Linked DNA regions of Homo sapiens: region 1 is linked to region 2. The links come from fine-mapping of genetic effects on plasma protein levels. Region 2 holds a variant in brackets. A gene starts in the other region. All regions are shown on their forward strands.

What was found. A credible set is the group of variants that fine-mapping cannot tell apart. PIP is the posterior inclusion probability: the model's chance that the variant is causal. Protein levels are from antibody-based Olink assays in UK Biobank. Linkage for the fine-mapping came from a reference panel and not from the study's own genotypes, which makes the PIPs less certain.
Region 1: it holds the start of CCL13, and the variant in region 2 is the best candidate, but not a certain one, in a credible set for the plasma level of the CCL13 protein (UK Biobank, PIP 0.61).

The regions. Positions count from the first base shown.
Region 1 is chr17:34,354,822-34,357,717 of GRCh38, forward strand. CCL13 (C-C motif chemokine ligand 13) reads left to right here and starts at 1,659. Exons shown (of 3, transcript NM_005408.3): 1 at 1,659-1,781; 2 at 2,654-2,768. The coding sequence starts at 1,706.
Region 2 is chr8:58,828,821-58,831,737 of GRCh38, forward strand. All of the region lies in intron 5 of TOX (thymocyte selection associated high mobility group box), which reads right to left. Among named protein-coding and RNA genes, the nearest start is that of NSMAF, 170 kb to the left of the region's middle. The variant G/C (reference allele first, on the strand shown) is at 1,260.

The DNA.
Region 1 (2,896 bases), not on the chromosome of region 2:
GAATTAGCTGTTTGTGCCCTTTGAGCCCAGAGAATGTTTTGTGGGAAGATTTTCAATTCCTGATTCCATTTCTTTAATAGCTTTAGAATGACTTTCTATTTTTTATTTATTTGTGCACCCTGGTCAGTTAGATTTTTAAGAAATTCATCCATTTCCTCTAAACTAAATTTTTGGCATAAGGTTCTTATCATTTTCTTTTTGGTGTCTGCAGGCTCTGCAACTGGTTATATGTACCTTTTTCCTTTTTTCTTTTCTTTTTTTTTTTTTCTGGGACAGAGTCCTACTCTGTCACTCAGACTGGGGTGCAGTGGTGCAATCTTGGCTCACTGTAACCTCGGCCTCCCAGGTTCAAGCAATTCTCCTGCCTCAGCCTCCCAAGTAGCTGGGATTACAGGCATGTGCCACCATGCCTGGGTAATTTTTGTATTTTTTTTAGTAAAGACAGGGTTTTACCATGTTGTCCAGGCTGCTCTAGAACTCTTGACCTCAAGTGATCCCCCCGCCTCAGCCCCTTTTTTCTTTTTTTTTTCATTTTCAGTTCAGGAGAGTTTTAGCTTAATTATAGGCTACAGAACCAGCTTTGGGCTTCATCTATCCTTTCTAATATTTACTGTTTCCTATTTCTCTAATCCTAGCTCTTTATTTCTTCCCTTTACTTTCACTGGGCTTATTTTGCTATAGTGGAATGCAGAGGGATGAGTATTCCAGGAAGGCACAAAAACTGTGCCAAGTCTTGGAGCTAGGGATGAGTGGGAAAGGGACATGTTCAACCATTTTAAGCCATTCCCTCCCCACCTCCCAGCTCCCAGATATGTGCCCCTCGCAGGAGGAGCCCAGGAATGGGCCAAACACCTCACTTCTTTGCTCTGAGGGCCACCCCAGCCCTCCCATCAACAGCTCTAGAAACCCAATGGTCCTTCCTGGAAACACGGGGCCTGCATCAATCAGAGGTGTTTGAACCATGTCCCTCTGGGCCTGAGGGGCAGAAGGGGACACAATATGTAATGTAAGGAGCCCCTGTCATCAGAAATCTGACTTAATCTGTTTCAGATATTAGACTTCCACATAAAAGTTGACTTGGAAAAAGACTTCTGCTGCTAAACAAAAGTTGAAACTGCCTTGGTGATAAAATATAAGCAGACCAGCTTTCTCTTCTAGCTTTCCCTCTCATTTCCCATAAGATTTTGGTCAAGTTATTTAATCTCTCTGCATCCGTTTCCTCTTCTATGAAATGGGCATGATAATAATGGTATGTACCTCCTCAAACTAAATATATAACGTGAACAGAGTCCTTAGCACAGCACTCTTTCTCTACAGGAGTTAATTTTCATTGTTTTTCTCTTTCCTGTTGGAGAAAGTAAGAAGAAAACAGCTCCTTTATGGCTTCCCATGGTGAATGGCTGGGGCGCGTCTGTGTCCCTTTCTCCTCTCTGGCTCCTTGTGGCCTGAACAGCCAGAAGGAAGCCATGCCATGCTGTTTCAGCCCTCAGCTTCCCTCTTGCATTTCCTAGAAAAGTCTTTGGTGCCCAGCTCCAGCTCAGCAGATTCAGGATCCCCCTTCATCATGACTTGGTCAACGCCCTGCTCAGGCCAAGGTCCTCTGAGAGTTCCAAGCTTCTCCACTCCCTATAAAAGGCCGGCGGAACAGCCAGAGGAGCAGAGAGGCAAAGAAACATTGTGAAATCTCCAACTCTTAACCTTCAACATGAAAGTCTCTGCAGTGCTTCTGTGCCTGCTGCTCATGACAGCAGCTTTCAACCCCCAGGGACTTGCTCAGCCAGGTAAGTCACCTCCCTTCGACTCTCCCTCTCTTTCCCTCTGTTTCTCTATTCAAGGAAGACCTAAGCCCGAGTGCTCCTCCACTTTTTTTTTAGATTGAGTCTCATTATGTTGCCCAGGCTGAAGTGCAGGGGTGCGATCTTGGCTCATTGCAACCTTCACCTCCCAGGTTCAAGCGATTCTCTTGCCTCAGCCTTCTGAGTAGCTGTGATTACAGGCACCCGCCATCACGTGCAGCTAATTTTTGTATTTTTAGTAGAGAAGGGGTTTCACTATGTTGGCCAGGCTGGTCTCAAACTCTTGACCTCAAGTGATCCTCCCGTCTCGGCCTCCCAAAGTGCTGGGATTACAGGCGTGAGCCACCAGGCCCAGCCAAGTGCCCCACTTCTAAGCCCACCAGAATAGTAAGGCTCCTCAGAGGTTCACTTTAACATCTAATTTTAAAGATAGAAAGCTGAAGCCCATGTTGGAGGCAGAAGGGACCCTAGCCATCCACCTCCAGGTTATTGCAGAGCAAGAATGAAACCTAAGCTTCTGACTCCAGATTTAGGGCCTTTTCTTTGACCTCATCTGATCGTCCCAAACTCTGCAGATCTGGGACCACACCCAGGACCTTTCCCACTGGCCTTGCCCGTGGCCTCCCCTAGATGGCTGTGACATGTCTCCACCATGCAGCTGAGCCTTTGAGATCCTGAGGCACATGTCACAGGTCCCACCTCACCTCAGGGTCTAGGGTGGGAGTGCTGGGCTTGGGGGTGAGTAAGATCTATTTCTTCCTCTTTGCTTTGCATCCCATACAGATGCTCCCTGCTGTATTCAAGCTGAGAAAAGCCTAACACATCCTCAAAGTCTTTTTCTTTGTAACTATTTCTAGATGCACTCAACGTCCCATCTACTTGCTGCTTCACATTTAGCAGTAAGAAGATCTCCTTGCAGAGGCTGAAGAGCTATGTGATCACCACCAGCAGGTGTCCCCAGAAGGCTGTCATGTGGGTAGAAAAATCCCTGCTCACCTGGCTCCTCCCCACTCCCACATTCCCCAATCCAAAGTTCTGCCCCAGGAGACAGACGTCAGACTGACTTGAGATCTTAGGATGAGATCTAGCCAGACTGTGTG
Region 2 (2,917 bases):
TTAATACCTCAAAACTTTCAAGAGGGTTTTTCTCCCATACAGATAGAAATCCTATTCAGGACTTTGAAGCAAACATTTAGTCAATACGTCTTTTATGGTAATGCATTTTTGTATACCCTAAGCATTTCTATCATGCTTTTATTAATATGCTACTCCAAGTGACTCCCATTCAGCTAACTAGGATGCGTTTTGCTTTCAAAGGCAAATAGAATGCACTTTGGTTCATAGCATTGCCCACAGTGGCATTTTCTAAGTTGTGGCAGATAAGACAGTATTGCCAGATGGTCTGACTACGGCATCTATCATTTTTCTTTCATTGGTTTCTACTGAAACAGCAACAGTGTGACTACGATGCTATCCCTTTGTTGAGCTCCTGGCAGTTAACATCACACAAAGTGTTAACTTTCCTGAAATTTGTTGCTTAACAACCAGGGAAGAAAGGTGGCTAACTCCACATGTTTCAGGCTGCATAGATGCCCCTGGTTTCCCTCCAGAATCGATGTTGTTACGGGATACCTGACTAGCATGCAGAGTCCCCTGTTTTCTACAAATGGCTCCCTATTGGCTATTGATGATTGGCTATGTGGGATCATCGCATAAGTGCCTAAATACCACTTTAGAAAAGAGTAAACTCATCACGTCACATTACATGGATTGATGGATACACTCTTTCCTGAATAGCTGCAGATGTTCAGAGGGAGAATTCAAAGGGGGGTCATTTCAGAAGGTAGATTCCTGTAATTGTGTTGAAAGGGGAGTAGCCTGGACCAGAATTAAAATCTGAGGTAGTCTCCTCAACAGTAATTAGCACCTCAATCTTTGAGAACTACCTGATGGCTCCCATTTTGTACACTCTGTATGTCTTTCTGATGTTACCTTCTAAAATTGGACAAGGATGTTGCTTGAATTCTATATTTAATGGAAATGTCTGAAGAAAGGCCTCAACTATGAATGAATGATAATGATATATAAAAATTCCACATGCAGGTGAAGTAGGGGAAATCCTTTAAAAAAAGATGTTTAAAAATTATCAAAAAAAAATCTCTCAAAAACATTTCAAAGCCTCTAATGATAGATAAAGAAAGTCCTCTGCTTGCAGAGAGCAAAGATGTCCCAGCACGGCATTTGGCAATGAACAACCACTGCCATGAGCAAGTGCACAGACCTTCTAACTGACAAGGATGGGTCTGATTTATGTCAAAGTTCAGTTTAGGAAAGAAATGGTCTCTCACTCTTAGGGAAAGACAAATATTTTAAAG[G/C]TATGTGATTCATACAGTAAATATTAGTATTTAGTTGAGTTACAAAATGGCTTCCAAATGGTCCACAGCTGTTTGAAATAAAGTACAAAGTTGGCCAGATGAGGATTTAAAAATCATAATACATCATTTATCATTTTCCCCCACTCATCTAAACACGTTTGAGTTCATCCTGTCCTAACTAAGTTATATGCTGTGGTTTTTATTCCAAGAAAGCTACCATATCCCATCTAAGGATTGCATCTCAGTGGCTAAACTAAAACATATATAATGGCTAAACTAAAACATACGTAGATAGTCATCAAATAGCAATTCTAGAGAACCCAAATCCTGTCACATGATCTAGTGATTCACTGAGGCATTTTTGAAATGCTCTAAATACCAGCATATACACGTTTTCATACGCTTATAATCCCTAATTGAAATCAGCAGTTCAATATCAACGATATGACAAACTCAAACAGAAAAAATTTCCCATACAATCTGTCATTTTCCTTTTACTTTCTGCTTCTTCCCTAAACAAACAATCCATCCAGCTCATATAGAAAAGCAAAATCTTATAAATACCATTTAATTCCTTCTTCCTTCCTTCTTTTCTGCTCTGGCCCTTAGTTAATCTCTAGTCATAGTTTATTTTAACAGTCTTTACAATAATAAGAAGAAAAAATGTAAAATTCTTCCAATTCTGGATTCTATCCAAAAACTAAAGGCATTCTTCATTCTGGGTAAGTTCAAATGTCGTTTTTCCCACTACTATTTCATATTTATAGAAAATCCTTAGAAATGCATAAGGATTTAGAATTTAACCACAATTCCCTGCAATATTTTTTAGAAATTTAAAATTTTCAGCTTCTTTCAAGGCTGTTGTTATTTAGGTCAGTTAGAGCAAGTGCATCTATATTTTATATAGAACTTAGTCCATTTAACTTAATGGTTAAATGTCCATCTTGTATAACTCGCTCAGCATTTTCTTAGGCTCCAAGGCCTTCACAAAGTGGTATTCAGAGGATTGAAAACATTATACAATGTGACAAACATCTTGCTATGGATTCCTTTTGAGGACTGTCTGACCCACGTAAATGGTCTCAGCAACACCGGTTTGACCTGTTTCTGGAATGGTAAGAATCCGAACCGAGGTCCTTGCCTGAAAAAATGGCTACAAAATACATATCTGTTGATTTATTAAATGAAGGTCACTAAGGAAAGTATGATGCTGTTCAGTTATGCTTACCAATCTATTGAGTGCCCAGTATGTGCCTACTGTGGTGTGAGGCACCGATGTTATAAAATTAAAATCAAAAAGTCATTAAAAATTACGCCTCCATTGTGTGCATTTTGCGGATCATGCACTCTATATATTACCTCTAATTCTTTCAATAAAAATGTTGCATTGGCATAATGAATATGGGATAATCCCCGTTTTGCAGATAAGAAAACAGACTAGAATGGGTAATTATTTTACCTAATATATTAGAACAGGTATATGGTAAAACCATGGTGTGAATAAAATGAGTCTGGTGTCAAATGTTCCATCTTTCTTTGCTCAATGGTTTGTCCTAGCCATGAGAACTCCTTTTGATTCTTCTCTCAAGACATACAACTGCAAGGCCTGGTCTCTTTTGTTCACTGCTGAAGCCCCAGCATGCTTGGAACATAGTAGG